Linked DNA regions of Homo sapiens: region 2 is linked to region 1. A link means that fine-mapping ties the variant in region 1 to the expression of a gene that starts in the linked region. Tissue or cell type: non-classical monocytes. Region 1 holds a variant in brackets; the other region holds the start of a gene. All regions are shown on one strand. Distances are from middle to middle. Region 1 has its middle 53 kb from the start of SVIL. Region 2 holds the start of SVIL (supervillin).

What was found. PIP is the estimated chance that this variant, and not a neighbour inherited with it, causes the effect.
Region 2: SVIL starts here. The variant in region 1 is fine-mapped to the expression of SVIL in non-classical monocytes (Schmiedel 2018, PIP 0.95).

The regions. Positions count from the first base shown.
Region 1 is chr10:29,683,822-29,692,326 of GRCh38, forward strand. It overlaps a transcript of SVIL not described here. Among named protein-coding and RNA genes, the nearest start is that of SVIL, 53 kb to the left of the region's middle. RefSeq lists an enhancer at 4,339-4,957. The variant A/AT (reference allele first, on the strand shown) is at 4,076.
Region 2 is chr10:29,631,359-29,639,863 of GRCh38, forward strand. It overlaps SVIL (supervillin), which reads right to left and starts at 3,613. Exons shown (of 38, transcript NM_021738.3): 1 at 3,062-3,613. RefSeq lists a silencer at 3,422-3,716 and an enhancer at 7,664-8,165.

The DNA of each region.
Region 1 (8,505 bases):
CCCCAGAGAACCCCTCTGTGCTGCACTTCACCATGGAAGCACAAAATCATCCTCACTCTGAATAGCCTCTCTAACCTCATGGCACACTGGTCAGGAAATATGCTTGAGAATAAGCATTTCATGAAAGTCACCCCAAATCATGACAGAAGCACCAGAAATTACAAGTGCCATAATTGAGTTGAACATCTTTGCGTAATTTTTTTAATGTGTGAAAACAAAAAGCCAACCACCCCCACCGAAAAAAACTCCAAAAAACTCTGCTTCCTTTGGGCCATCAATAGAGAAACTGTAGAATTCCTTTTGGTTAAAATAGACCTAGGAAGATTCAGTTTGACCAACTCCAGTTCAGGGAGGCTCTTCTGCAGCAACATCCTTGTCAGACAAACACAGAGTTTCTATAGTGTGAACCAAAAAGTATCTGAGACAGGTCTCAGTCAATTTAGAAGTTTATTTTGCCAAGGTTATGGATCATGACCTGTGACACAGACTCAAGAGCTCCTGAGAACATGTACCCAAGGCGGTTGGGTTACAGCTTGGTTTTATGTGCTTTACAGAGACAGAAGACATTAATCAATACATGGAAGGTATACACTGGTTCGATCCAGAAAGGCGGGACAACTTGGGGGGTGGGGGCTTACAGGTCATAGGTGGAGTCAAAGATTTTCTGTCTGGAAATTGGTTGAAAGAGTTAAGTTATTGTCTAAAGACCTGGAATAAACAGAAAGGAGAGGAGTGTTTGGGTTAATATGGGGGTTGTGGAGGCAAAAGTTCTTATGTAGATGAAGTCTCATAGTCTCATAGGTGGCTGCCCCCAAACGCAATAGATGGTCAATGCTTCCTATGCAGACCGTTAAAAGGTGCTAGACTCTCAGCCAATCTCTTCAGTATTAGGAAAAGACCTGGAAAGGGAAAGGATTCTCTATGGAATGTAAATTTCTCCCAAAAGAAACAGCTTTACAAAGCTATTTCAAAATATGTCAAAGGGATAAAATACTGTGATTTGTTTTCAGTGCCTGCTATGGACCATATGATGCTACAGTAGAGTCAGGTTGGAATTTGGTATCTTACTGTTCTGTCAGTCTTAGGACCTTTATTTTTTTTTAACTTTTATTTTAGGTTCAGGGGTATTACACGTGCAGGTTTATTACGTAGGTAAAACTGTGTGTCACAGGGGTTTGGTGTACAGATCATCACCCAGGTAGGAAGCGTAGTACCCAATGAGTATTTTTTCTGATCTTTTCTCTCCCCCAAGCCTCCACTCTCAAGTAGGCCCCAGTATCTGTTGTTCCCCTCCTAGTATCCAGGTGTTCCCATTGTTTAGCTTCCACTTATGCATGAGTACATACGGTATTTGGTTTTCTGTTCCTGCATTAGTTTGCTAAGGATAATGGCCTCCAGCTCTATCCATGTTGCTGCAAAGGACATGATCTCGTTCTTTCTCATGTCTGTGTAGTATTCCATAGTGTATATGCACCACATGTTCTTTATCTAGTCTACTACCATTGATGGGCATTTAGGTTGATTCCATGTCTTGCTATTGAGAATGGTGTTGTGATGAACATATGTGTACATGTGCCCTTATGGCAGAACAATGTATACACGTTTGGGTCTATAGCCAGTAATGGGATTGCTGGGTCAAATGTTAATTCTGCTTTAAGTTCTTCAAGGAATTGTCACACTGCTTTCCACGATGAACTAATTTACACTCTCACCAACAATGTATAAGCATTTCCTTTTCTCCACAACCTCGCCGGCATCTGTTATTTTCTGACTTTTTAACAGTAGCCATTCTGACTGGTGTGAAATGGTATCTCACTGTGGTTTTGACTTGCATTTCTCTAATGATTAGTGATGCTGAGCATTTTTTTACATGCTTGTTGGCCACGTGTATGTCTTCTTTTGAAAAGTTAATGCTGGTCAGTTGTTTGCCTGAACTCCAAAGGGAGGAGAGTGTAATGAGGCATGCCTGACCCTCCCTTTCCATCATGATCTGAACTAATTTTTCAGGTTTTGTTGGGTCCCTTGGCTGAGAGGATGTTCCATTCAGTCACTTGGCTTAGAATTTAATCTTTGGTTTACAATAGAAATATCTCCATCAATGGAGAGCTTCGTCCAGGCCAGGCAACCCATTCATTAGTCAGTCAGATGTTCAAAAAATCCTCCTTATACTGAATTCAAATCTGTTTCTTTATATCTTCCACCCATTGGCCCTAGGACCAATTTGCCTAACAAAGTAGATCAATATGAATTTAAATATGGTTTATTTTTAACTATAAATCCAATCATTAGGCAGAGCAACTTGAAGTAGAGAGAAAAAATAAACTGATACTTTCAGAATGGACAAGCAAGGAACCTGTGATTAAAATGAGTTCCTACACTTTAGTGGTCTTCCTGTAACCTCTATCTTGGAAATTCTTTCATAATCCCTATAAATGTGAGGCTGTCACACAGAACAAGCTGGGAATCAGGCCCAGGAACATGGTCTAAGGAAAGGAGTCAACTGCTTTGATGGTAACACCTTAATCCTCAGGTAGACCTACCTGGAAAAGCTTATTTAAGAAGAACATTTTAAGTTTTGTTTTTAAAAAGTCCATCTCACACAATGAAATTAGAGTGGTACCAGTTGTTATTATAACAGAAAATGTCTAAAACTCTCAGTTTTGTCTTTGCTGCTACTGCAGCTGAACTCCACATGATACTGCAAACATATTCCGAAATCATCAATAATTACCTTTTCTTCCGCTAGTCAAAACTCAGTGAGAATCCACCATCTCTTCATGGGCTTCTCCTTCAGTTTTAGAAAGCAACCAATCTCCAATGTAGCCAGAATCTGGGGGAGAAAAGTTTTAAAAAAATCATAGGATGTAATTTCCAAAGCCTAGAAATATATACTTAAATGAAATGGAATGAATCGGTTTGCATTTAACCTCTGGAAATACCGCACTGCTTCTTACTTTATCAATATTCCTCACTTCCATATGACCAGCACAGTAGGATTTGAAACTGACACACAATTTCTAGAATCCTCTAGATTTTTCCTACTTGGTAATTTAAATCATGACTAAAATTGTTTTGATTGAATCCACTTTAACCAGGCTTTGCCATTACTTCTTGCAAACAACCACGTGCAAGGGAATATTTAAAAAAATCTCAAGACCCCCAAACTCCTTACGCAAAATAAAAGATTAAGCCTGGAGGCTGAGTCATGCAACACCCTCTTTCAAATGAAGAGCTGTTACTAGCATTATCCAGAGGAGAAGGCCTCAGGACTGCCTCCATAGGTAAGTAAACTTTTTGCTGCCCTCCCATAAACAAGGACATGCCAATTGTAATTTTATGTTTACAATCTAAGTCTAGCTCTTAAAACTAAAGTCTATTCGATTCCGCACTGATAATGTCAATTACAAGCTTATCTTCCCTGGTATAGAACAAAGACAAGACCAGATCAATCATTCCTCCACCTACCCAAAAACTCTGCATAATTGATTCTTCCTTTATTCCCTTTTTTCTCTTCAAACATTCACCTTACCGTATGCAAAATGTAGATTTACTGGGCACTAAATAAAATCTCCCAAAAATGTCAAGTTTGGCCAGGTGAGGTGGTTCATGCCTGTAATCCCAACACTTTGGGAGGCTGAGGCAGGTGAATCACCTGAGGTCAGCAGTTTCAAACCAGCCTTGCCAACATGGCAAAACCCCCGTCTCTACCAAAAATACAAAAATTAGGCAGCCGTGGTAGTGCACACTTGTGCTGAGGCAGGAGGATTGCTTCAATCTGGGAAGGGAGGTTGCAGTTAGCCAAGATCGCGCCACCGCACTCCAGCCTGGGTGACAGAGTTGAGACTCTTTCTCAATAAACAAACAAACAAAAACCCCGTAAATTTGCTTTACCACCTACCTGCCCCTTTTTCTACAATGCCTTCCCCCTTTAAGAAAAGGTATAAATACTAAACCTCCTGAAAACTTCTTTGGAATAACAGCCACAGGTCTGTCTATGGCATTTGTTTTTCCCCTGGATTATGCCCTTAAGATGGCTTAATAAACTCATCGACTGAGACTTTTGCCTCAGTCACTA[A/AT]TTTGGTTATCACAAGTTACTCCCAGTTTCAGCAATGGATAGTTCCCTTTCTTGCCCAATAACCGCCCTAGTTCTGGGGTAAGCCATGAGAAACAAGCATTGCAAATAGTTCACACACATATGCAGAAGCAGCAATGACACTTTCCCCGGTAGAAGGGGAAAGTGTCAATTACGCTTCATTTATCTAGATAAGGGGTAGAAAATCTAATTATAATGGTTGAACAAACTATTTTCCCCCAAAGACACATTGAAAATTTCCAAGCTTCTGAATATAAATGAAAAGTGCAGAAATGTCTAATAATGTAGCATTAGCTAATTCAGTTTGTGGATGCTTCGAGGCGGTGAGGCAGTGAGCCTGACTGTCTCCCCTCAGGGGATGATTGATGGCTTAGCTCTCTGGAGACGGTTGGTCTGACCAGTGCAACGTCAGAAGCCAAAGGTCACCATACCTCCCAGGTGATCAGATGCTCCCTAGAGTGTGGCAGGGGCAGCCAAGCATCTGAAGATGCCGTTCAGATCCCACTGGGATTTCTGCCTCGTTCCCTGCTTTCTTTGTTATTTAACACCAGGCTCCCTGGGATCGCTATTTGCCCAGCTTGGCAGCAGCAAAAGCCAAGTTCTAATTTTCTTTTGTTCCTCTCTGTTTCACTTAGCTGGGCTCTTTGCCTTAGTTTGTTTCTTCCTGTTTACAGCAGTGGCAAAAGTCATTTGAGCACTGAAATGCACACAGAACTGAGCTACAAGTGTGAGGAGCTCTTTTTAAAAAATTATCTATCTACAAAAATGTCTAGGGTAACACGGCCCAAAAAAACATAAAAAAATCTCTGAAGTATGGAGATGCTCAGTTGCCCAGTGATCAGGATGTGTATCAGTATGTTTTAATATATTTAAATATGTTTTAAGTATATGTTTTAATACACTTATTATGTGCTATCAGCTATTAGGAAAGGTAAATGTGAAAACAGAGAAAAATGTTAAGTTTACAATATATATGCAAACATTTATGAGATAAGACTAGTGAAAAGAGCAGAATTTAAAATTTTACCAAAGTGCTGTTTACAACTTTACCCAGAGCATAATTACATATGGATGAAGATACTGAAATCATAAAAGGCACATATATATACAGTGCAAATAAACTAAAAGAAGGAGTTGTTGATATTTGCTAAGCTCTAGGAATTATGCAAACAGTGATATAGCTCTTCCCCAACTCAAAATATCCAATTTAGAATCACAGAATGAGTAGAAGGGACCTTAGCTCAACTTTTTCTTTTCACAGATAAGTAAATTTATGCCAAAAGGAAGTGATTCATCCATGCGTATACAGCTACCCACTGGCAGAACTGAGGCTAGAACTGGTATCTCCCCGACTCATGAGTCTCTTTTCTTTGTTTTCTTTTTTTTTTGAGACAGAGTCTCGCACTATCACCCAGGCTGGAGTGCCCTGGCGCGATCTCAGCTCTCTGCAACCTCCGCCTCCCGGGTTCATGTGATTCTCCTGCCTCAGCTTCCCGAGTAGTGGGGATTACAGGCACACACCAACACATCCGGCTAACTTTTTGTATTTTTAGTAGAGATGGGGTTTCACTATATTGGCCAGGCTGGTCTCGAACTCCTGACCTCGTGATCTGCCCATCTCGGCCTCCCAAAGTGCTGGGATTACAGGCGCGAGCCACCGCGCCCAGCCGAGTCTCTTTTTCATACTGCATACTGCAATGCATTCATACACACAGGTCAGGGAGCCCTTGTTATTGGAGTATTCATGACCCAAATCCCTACAAATGATGGGCTTGTTCAGGGAAGCACACCTTCAAAATACTAAAATATTTCCAAATAGCCATTTTTTTGACTTGAGTCCCTCTTAAAAATCCATCATTGTTCAAAGTCAGCCTCTATCCCTAATTCTGTTAGTGACTGTCTCGTACCTCCCACAGATGTATGTCCACTGCAGAGCAACACTGCAAAACTTTCCCCCAAATACAGAATTTCATGAGGCTAATCAAAATGGCATTAGAGAATTTCCCCAATAACAGGTAAAACAATGGCCAGTGGGAGCTGAGCAGTTTGATTAGGAAACAATCACTTCAGAGAAAAATCTAACGTTGGTGACAAGATAGAACTTTCTACAGTGATTTTAGTATTTAAAAATCTAAACGGCTCCAGAGGAAAATGACCAAGACCTTGAATATCTTTGTAACACTGGTCATCTTTATGCTGTGATGTAAATGTCAATTGTGATATAAAAAGTACCAAAATGTAGAATCGCCTCATTTTATACAAAAAATTTACTCCTTTCAAAATAATCAACACTTGACTTTCACACTGCTCATTCTAAGAGCTAGCCATAGTCACAATGATCACCTAAATTTTGATAAATGTATGCTAAAATAACTTATTTTCATAGTTTTCAGTTAATTTTTTTCATGATAAAGTCCCAAAGCTTTTTTTCATTATATGAAATGTTGGTCCCCATTTAAGTGGATTGACCTTAAATGGCCTTTTTTCTGGTTCTCATTATCCTTGGATAACAAGGATCTGCTGTTGAATCTTCAGAAAGAAGTTTTAGAAGTATAAGTCAGTAATATGGAGGCTATTTATATCATTTAGAACCAAGCATACATTTCAGAAGCAGAACTTCAGATCAGAATATGCAATACTAGAAGGCCCTATGTTTTTATTTCACCTGTCTGTCATAAAAAATAATGAATTTTATATTTTAATTTATATAAAATAAAAACAAAGATTACAAAATCACAAATGACTACATTTGTCTCAATTCTTTTAAAAAAGGTGAAAGCATAATAATGTATTTATCATCCTGAATTACATAATTAAGTTTCCAGTTTTAATATCCTATTTCATTCGAACACAACCCATGAGAACACCTGCATATGGTTGTTAATCATTGCTGATTTGCATATTGTGATTAGTTCCATCATCTGCAATTATCTGGGGTTCTGTATAATTCATGGTCTGAACTTTACCTGAGAACAATCAAGTTGGCTGATTTTTCTTACGTTCAAATGTTTTTTATATGAAGATAGTTAATATTCAGGGCTAACATTCATTCGTTCAGATAATGAAAGCTATTCTAGTATCATAAAACGCAAAGCTTCATTTTAGAAGCATCAATTATTCAGTGGAACATTTTCTTCTGGAAGAGTAAAAAGACTAAAAGAATATTTTTCCCATTAAATAAAACTGCAATGTTCTATAGTAGAAAGATTTTTTTTTCTCTTACTTTTCAATCTGTAACAGTATTTGGAGCCTAAATGACCAATAATGAACAATGTAAAGTATGTTGGATAATGAATAATTTTTTTTTTTTTTTTTGAGACGGAGTCTCACTCTGTCGCCCAGGCTGGAGTGCAGTGGTGCGATCTCGGCTCACTGCAAGCTCCACCTCCCAGGTTCACGCCATTCTCCAGCCTCAGCCTCCCGAGTAGCTGGGACTACAGGCGCCCACCACCACGCCCGGCTAATTTTTTGTATTTTTAGTAGAGACGGTGTTTCACCGTGTTAGGCAGGATGGTCTCGATCTCCTGACCTCGTGATCCACCCACCTGGGCCTCCCAAAGTGCTGGGATTACAGGCGTGAGCCACCGCGCCCAGCCCCAATAATGAATAATTTTTAAAGATTCTTTTCTTGGCGACGCTCCAGCTTCTGTGACCAAAATAATAAATAATTTATGATTTAGTTTGTCCACTAATCCTGTCTCAGAGATCAAGACAAAGATTTTTGACTCAGTCTTTCTGCCAAATTTGCTTATCTCTCAAATGAGTGTAAATTTATGGCTCAGGATTAAGACATGACTAATAGTTCCTTCCAGGTTTCCAAGGACAACAAACCCCCCATCTACCCCGGCCAACAGATGCTGGAGAGCAAAGATTACGGAATCCCTGTAACACTCTGTTATAGGTAGACACTCGAATTATCTCACCACTGTTGTCTACAAACAAGAAGAAAAATAAGCTCAAATCACCCTTTCAAATAACTGAGCAGCACGCTAAGGAAAACAGATGAGCTGCTCAGCTCTGGTCCCCTTCCTGGAATGAAATTAGCACCCATCTGGAAGTTGGATCAGCCAATAAGCAACTGGAAACACAGGAAACAGGGGAATCCCTGCCGCAGCTCACTCAGCTAAGACACTGTCAACCTCAGTGAAGAACCTCAGTTGCTTTACAGCTACAAAAAGAAGGTTCTCATGCCAGAAACCTTCGTCAAATCATAGAAAACAAAGAATCGTGAACTTGGTTTCTTGTTTTTGGCATTCTGGCTTACAAGTAGAAGCAAGTAGAGGTTCGTCAACATGAAAACTGCCTTTTAAAGGAAATGCATTACTAGACTCACTAACAACCATATGAGACGATGTGATTTTCATGACAAAGCCGATGAACTCTCCCTGGTTCTGCTCAGCAGAAGGATGGAG
Region 2 (8,505 bases), 52 kb before region 1:
CGAGGCCAGGCGCGGTGGCTCATGCCTGTAATCCCAGCACTTTGGGAGGCCGAGGTGGGCAGATCATGAGGTCAGGATTTCGAGACCAGCCTGACCAACATGGTGAAACCCCATCTTTACTAAATATACAAGAATTAGCCGGGCGTGGTGGCGGACACCTGTAATCCCAGCACTTTGGGAGGCCGAGGTGGGCAGATCATGAGGTCAGGATTTCGAGACCAGCCTGACCAACATGGTGAAACCCCATCTTTACTAAATATACAAGAATTAGCCGGGCGTGGTGGCGGACACCTGTAATCCCAGCTACTCAGGAGGCTGTGGCAGGAGAATCCCTTGAACCCGGGAGGCAGGGATTGCAGTGAGCCGAGATTGTGCCATTGCACTCCAGCTTGGCTGACAGAGTGAGACTCCATCTCAAAAAAATAAAAAATAAAAAAGATGGCGAGGCTTAAGAGGAGGTGGTGGGGCAGAGGCCTCGGGGACCTAAAGGGAGAGGAGTCAAGGGTGACCAGAAGATTCCTAGTTGAGTCACAAATCAATGAAGCCCAGAACTGCTGGAAAGTTCTAGACCTACGGATACTCCCAGTCACAGCAAGGCACCCTGAGATCAGCGCTTTAACATAAAATTGCAATGAGTGTCCTAAAATCCCAGGCAGCTGCAGATTCAGGAGATGATTCCAAGGCTGCCTTTGTACCCTAACAATCACAAGGCTCCTAGCAGCTTACTCTCCATAACGCTCCATGTAGCCCGAGAGCCCTGCATGCTGGAGCTCACCAGACATCCTTATAAAAATCCCAAGGGCCCTTTCCTTTGGATGCAATTCCTCAACTGTAGAATATTAAATAACTCGCCGGGTGTGGTGGCTCATGCCTGTAATCCCAGAACTTTGGGAGGCCGAGCGCTGGTAGATCACCTGAGGTCAGGAGTTCAAGACCAACCTGGGCAACATGATGAAACCCTGTCTCTACTAAAAATACAAAAATTAGCTGGGCGCAGTGGCATATGCCTGTAATCCCAGCTAGTAGGGAGGCTGAGGCAGGAGAATCACTTCAGCCCAAGAGGTGGAGGTTGCAGTGAGCTGAGATTGTGTCATTGCACTCCAGCCTGGGCAACAGAGCAAGACTCCATCTCAAAAAAAAAAAAAAGAAAAAAGAAAAAAAGAATACTATATAACCCCAGGTGTTGCCAAAGATGTTCACTCTGAATTGAACTCCAAAGTCTTCCAGAAGTCTGTTTATCACAAAACAGTCTGTCTCCAAAGTAGAAGCAAAGATAAAGAACTGTTTGTTGAATGGCTGACTGATGTCCACTGCAAGCTGAGCGCATTAACCAAATTTCACTTGGAAGACTATGCATGTGGCAAAATTAAATGCACCAATAGTACTAAATAAAGGTAGGCAGGAAGGCACCTAATGTACTACAATAGCTTGTATAACATCAGCCTCATCCAGTGATCAAGGTGACCAAATAAATTATCTTTAACACACACACACACACACACACAGAGTATAGACTCCAAAGTTTCCATTGTAAGACAAATTCTCTGACACTAGTGCACACTTGATGCCCTGGATCCTCAAGACATCACCGGGTGCCGGGTGCAGGGGCTCACGCCTATAATCCCAGCACTTTGGGAGCCCAAGGTGGGCGGATCACGAGGTCAGGAGTTCAAGATCAGCCTGGCCAACATAGTGAAACCCCGTCTCTACTAAAAATACAAAAAAAAATTAGCTGGATATGGTGCCAGGTGCCTGTAATCCCAGTTACTTGGGAGGTTGAGGCAAGGAGAGTCACTTGAACCTGGGAGGTGGAGGTTGCAGTGAGCCGAGATCGTGCCACTGCACTCCAGCCTGGGTGACAGCACGAGACTCCATCTCAAAAAAAAAAAAAAAAAAAAAAGACATCACTGGTTTTGGTGAGAAGAGACAGCACACATCTGCCTGGCACTGGGCTGCTCTTCTTTGGAGACAGAGGGTACAATTTATATCCTGCAGTTTTACTCAACAGGGGATACCACCAGCAGTTTGGCCAGGGTAATGCTGTATGGGACTGTCCCCTACACCATGTAAATTGGGCATTTACAATTCTTAACCACATCCTCCCAAATGCCAGTGAGTCATTGAGAAAACCTGAAACACCCCCATGCATTTTCAAACGCCCCCTAGGGTTGCCACACTATCTCCGGTGAAGAACCCTCGCAGTATTCACCGATGAAGTTCTTCTCTATAAATACTCTGTTTTCCTACCTGGTAAAAATAATGACTGCCCGTACTTGTCCATCTGATGTGGTATAAAGAAATAATCTTTTTTTTTTTTCAAAGAAGCAACACGTCAAATAAGCCTTCTATGTTCTAGAGTTCACTGCTGTTTTTCAGCAGAAACAAATCACTGAGCTAAATTACAAAGAGACCATAGCAATCTCCAGGGCTTTAAAAGGCTGATGCAGTATTTTTTCTTGGAGAATTTAAAAATAAAATGCAGTTCAAACTCTAGAACCTACAGTGAGGTTTTTCTCATAAATTCTGGAACATCGCAAGTTCTAGAAATCAAGCCCTGAAGAATGAGAGTACCAAGGCAAAGAACCCTCAGAACAAAGATTATGCAAAAGGATCACTGGTGATTTTCTATTTTTACATGAATTATAATGGCAGTGAAATAAAACTTGCCCTTCTGAACTCCACCCCCATACTTGTGCTACGATTATTAAAGTACGTTGCATTGTGAATATACTTTAATTCCAAGACTTTAAGTGCTAACATTTAGACAGAATGTACTAAGTTATATTAATCAAATTTTTAGTATTAAACCTTTCTCTACCATAAAGTAAATCCTTTAAAAAAAAAAAAAAGTCCAATCCTTCTCAACCCAAGAAATATGCCCAAGGGTATCTACAGGAATGGCTGCAGTAACTGGCAAACGCTGGCAGGAATTTTCCAATGACTGAAGTCAACAAATCCTCAGGAAACATGCTCAGACAGATGGCACTTAAAAAAAAGCAAAAACAAAAACAACAAAAAAAAACCTACTGCATTTAGATTTATAGGAAGATTTTTCACTTACTTCAAATTTCTGTATAATCCTCGTTCCTCTAAGTTAAAGGGGGAAAGAAAATCACACTGCAATTCCTTATTTTTCTAATTTAAAAAACAAAACAAAACACGTTATACCCTCGAATCCAGCTTTTGATGTCTTCGAGTATTTTCTTGGAGTCTCTTTCCAATGAATACTACTTTCAAATTCTAAGCACAAAGTAAAATCCCAAAAGTTAGCCCAAATAGCGTTGTACAAAATCAAAGATCACGATGTCAGCAAGCAACTGCATCTATCAGAAGCGATGATGATTCAGAACAGGATAAATTTAGAATGGTGTTTTCCAAAAGGCTTTTTGGATGTCAAATTCAGGAAACAGGTAAAGGCTACATCCCAAAAGTTCCTCTCCAAAAAGAACGCCAAAATATTAATAAAAAGAGTCTTCTTTTTGAAGTTTTTCGTCCCCTAGTGTCCTCGAGGCTGAACTTCCCCAACCTGGCCTCGGTGGAGCCATCCATTACTGGGCAAATCCACATGAAACCTGAGGACACTTCAGCCTGGGGAGGACGCAGTCAGAGCAGTGAAGCAACTTCACATGGGACGGGCCTTTTATGGCCTGAACTCGAGAGCCTTGATACCAGCTCATCTACCAGAAATAGCCCTGGAAATTCAGAGGAGCCCATCAGCTGTTGCAGCAGGCCTGGCCAGCAGCTACTTCAAATGCAATTAGGTTGTCCACACTGTCTTTCAGCTTGTTGTATAGAGAAATTAAAAATACAACAGCAGTCTACTGAATAAGCTACAACAATACAGATTTGGATGAGCAAACATTTCTCTAACTTAGTTTTTTTAGGCTAAAAAAAGAGCACACAATCGTTGACAAAGCTCAGACACTGAACACCCCAAAAGTAAGTAACAGACATATATACAATGAATGCCCGAAAAGTAACTAACAGACATACACATCTATGAAACAGCATGATATAATGGCACATGTCTCTACAAGTTTACAAATTCTGTAACCTCTGTGGATTTCTTCCCACTTCCAATAACTGTAGAAAATGAATCATCAGAAGAAAGCATTGTGCTGGAAGTACTTTCTCGAAAATGACACAAATATTTTCTCTTAAAGCCAAAGTCAGTCCTCTGAACTGGCAAGATCTATCTTCCTATGGCTCTCAGGTAGCTCACCTCACTGAAAAACCAGATGAACCTAACCTAATGAAAAAAATATTAACTATGAAGCACAACCACTTCTTAAATGGCCATATGCATTTTTTTAAACATTAAAAGGCCACTGACATGTTGAATACACTCAAACAAATATCACAACCCTGTTTACAAAATACTTACAATTGTAGGTCTCTGTCCCTGTCGGTACCAAGAACAGAGAGTCTTAATTGTCTGCACCAACTTCAGTATAAACCACAAACCCCATAAGACTTGGGCTGGAGTACAGCAAAAGCTGTGTGCTGCGCGGGGCCTCCCAGTGGTATGCCTCTGGGTGTCAGGGTTCTCAGACCACCAGCTGCTTCGGCCAGCACAGGAGGCCTCTCAAAGCAGGATCTAAATTCCTGTTACTAATTAACCCTACAGAACAATGCCTCTCCCTAAGAGGACAGTCCTGAGGCCAGGTGAAAAGATGACAGGTATAATAATTAAACATTGGCTTCATGACTGTTTTGTGCTAGGGGTATTTGTCCCAGTCAACTGTTTTTTTTTTTTTTTACCCATCTCAAGATAACAAACAAACAAAATTTCATAGCATGGCTTTTGCATCCTAATCTCAGTCCTGACCCTGATCTTCTTTTCCCTTGGACCATATTGGCTTTTTCCTCATTTTAAAGTTTATTTGATCTTGTTTTACGTATTTTTATAAGCTGTGGTAAGCCCCTCCCTAGAGAAAAGTAGGGCAAAAATAAATAAAAACTTACATGAAACAGTTCACTATTTGGGTCTTCTCTGTAAAGAGAAGATAGGAGGAGAAAATGAATCACTGTTACCACAATAGTGCTATTTCCTTCCTAAAAAAAGATTCACTCCCACAAAATAAACATCAGTCTTTTGTGTGCCTCTTAAGTTTTTGCACACTGCTTCCCCATAGCAACCAAACTGTCCTAGATTAATACACTGGAGTCTAATAGGGTAAATCTCCTTCGTCACTTCTTTTATATATCCTTTCTGTCTTTGATTATTTAAATCCCAGTTAATTCTTCCTGTGCAATCCATTTACTTTCCTAATTTTTTTGCTATCTGCCTGGCTTAGAAGACTCATCATACTCACTTCTTTCCAATGATGATAATCATGAATTGGAAGAAAAATCAACACACAAAAGATGTCAATTGTCCCCAAACTGATCTACAGATTAACAAAATTCCTATCAAAATCTTGCAAGGTTTTTTTGTTTTGTTTTGTTTTGTTTTGTTTTTTTGAGACATGGTCTTGCTCTGTTGTCCAGGCTGGAGTAGAGGTGTGCAATCATGGCTCACTGCAGCCTCAACCTCCCCAGGAGGCAGTCCTCCTGCCTCAGCCTCCTGAATATCTGGGGCTACAGATGTGCACCACCACACTGGGCTAATTTTTTAATTTCTTAGTTTTTGTAGAGATGGAGTCTCATTAGGTTGGCCAGGCTTGTCTTGAACTCCTGGGCTCCAGCTGTCCTCCCACTTCGGCCTTCTTAAGTGCTAGGATTACAGGTGTGAGCCACCCTGCCTGGCCTCACAGTGATTTTTGGCAGATATTCTAAAATTTATAGTAAAGGTACAGGCCCTAGAATAGCTAAAAACCATCTTGAAAAAGAAGAAAAAAGTTAGTCTGGGCGTGGTGGCTCATGCCTGTAATCCCAGCACTTTGGTAGGCCGAGGCGGGTGGATCACCTGAGGTCAGGAGTTCGAGACCAGCCTAATGAACATGGTGAAACACTGTCTCTATCAAAAATACAGAAAAATTAGCCAGGCGTGGTGGTGCACACCTGTAATCCCAGTTACTAGGGAGGCTAAGGCAGGAGCATCGCTTGAACCCAATCCTGGGAGGCAGAGGTTGCAGTGAGCCAAGATCATGCCACTGCACTCCAGCCTGGGCCACAGAGTGAGACTCCGTCTCAAAAGAAGAAAAAAGTTAGAGCAATGAATCTATCCCATATTAAGGCCTACTGGATAACTACAGTAATCAAGACAACACAGCATTGGCAAAAAGAGAGACACATAACATAGATCAGTGGAACAGACTGGAGAACCCAGAGACAGGCCCACATGAATATGCCAAACTGATTTCTGTGCCATTCAACAAACAGTGCTAGAGCAATTAGACACCCCTAGGCAAAAGCAATGAGCTTCTACCCAATCCTCATTGTGGTACATCCATACCATGGAATACTACTCAACAATAAAAAGGAACAAATTATTAGTACGTTCCACGACCTGGATAAGAATCCAGGGAATTAAATTATGCTGAGTGACAGAAAGCCAATCCCAAAATGTTAGATACTATACGAGTACACTTACATAGCATTTCCCAGATGACAACATTATAGAAATGGAGAAGAGATGGGAGTTGTTAGAGGTTAGGGATGGGGATGAGGTGGTTTAACAGGGCCACATGAGAGACCCCTGTTCTGGAACTCTTCTATTGGATTGACCACATCAGTGTCAATATCCTGGTTGTGATACTATTGTATAGCTTTGCAAGATGTTATCACTGGAGAAACTGGGTAAAAAGCCCTCATGATCACTTTGTACTATTTCTTACAACTACATCTGAATCTATAATTATCTCAAAATTAAAAGTTTAAGCAGGGCGGGGTGGCTCACACCTGTAATCCCAGAACTTTGGGAGGCTGTGGCGGATGGATTACCTGAGGTCAGGAGATTGAGAACATCCTAGCCAACGTGGTGAAACCCTGTCTCTACTAAAAATACAAAAATTAGCCAGGCATGGTGGCTGGCATGTGCCTGTAATCCCAGCTTCTCGGGAGGCTGAGGCAGGAGAATTGCTTGAACCCGGGAGGCGGAGGTTGCAGTGAGCTGAGATCATGCCATTGCACTCCAGCCTGGGTGACAAGGGTGAAACTCTGTCTCAAAAAAAAAAAAAGTTTAATTAAGTATTTTTTCCAAGGAAAAAGCATCCCAACCCCAAAAAACAAACCTACTTCAAATGAAACTTTCAAATATAATCCATTTGTAAATGGGTGACTTACTGTAACTGTACTTCACATAAATCTATAGAGATTTACTTATTATCAATGCCATCTTACGAATTTCAAACTGGAAATATTTATTTTTCCCTATAAGAATGAAAGTTAATCCGAAAGTAAAATATTTGATACAGAATAAGAAATGGAAAGCATTGCTTTCCAATTGAATGTGTTTATTTAGCAGGCTGTGTAGATACTTAAAAAGAGCACCTCTAATACCTAGGGCCCATCCAAAAATAAAAAAGGAAACCTGCACATAATTTTCAGAAATTTCATCTACTGCCCCAGATTATTAATTTTTAAAACCTGACCAACTCTGGAGAAATAGCAAGAAAACAACTTTTTGGAAAGGGAGGAGATCGGGTCATCTCAATTTTTGATTATATTTCATTTTTAGAGACAGGTTCTCACTATTTGGCTCAGGCTGGTCTTGAACTCTTGGGCTTATGTGATCCTCCTGCCTCAGCCACCTGAGTAGCTGGGATAACGAAAGTGTGTCACTGCACTGGTCTTCCAATGTGAATACTGCTATAAATATAATAGAAAACAAGTTTTTGAAATCTGTTCTCTAGAACTCTTCCCCTTTCTTTTTTGTTTTTCTTTTTCTTGAGACAGAATCTCACTCTGTCACCAGGCTGGAGTGCAGTGGCGCGATCTTGGCTCACTGCAATTTCCTCCTCCCGAGTTCAAGTGATTCTCCTGCCTCAGCCTCCGGAGTAGCTGGGACTACAGGTGTGCGCTAGCACACTCAGCTAAGTTTTGTATTTTTAGTACGACGGGGTTTCACCATGTTGGCCAGGATGGTCTCGATCTCTCGATTTCGTGATCTGCTCACCTCAGCCTCCCAAAGTGATGAGATTACAGGCATGAGCCACTGCGCCTGGCCCTTTTTTTTTTTTTTTTTGAGATGGAGTTTCACTCTTGCTGCCTAGGCTGGAGTGTAATGCACGATCTCGGCTCACTGCAACCTTCACCTCCCAAGTTCAAGCGATTCTCCTACCTCAGCCTCCCAAGTAGCTGGGATCACAGGCAGATGCCACCACATCTGGCTAATTTTTGTATTTTTAGTAGACAGGGTTTCACCATGTTGGCCAAGCTGGTCTCGAACTTCTAACCTCGCGTGATCTGCCCGCCTTGGCCTCCCAAAGTGCTGAGATTACAGGCGTGAGCCACCACACCCAGCTGAACTCTTTATTCTTGAAAATAAATAGATGATATAACAGTTCAGCCTTCCCAGAAGTGGAATGGGCAGATGGAGGTTTCAGGGCCCTTTATCTTCTC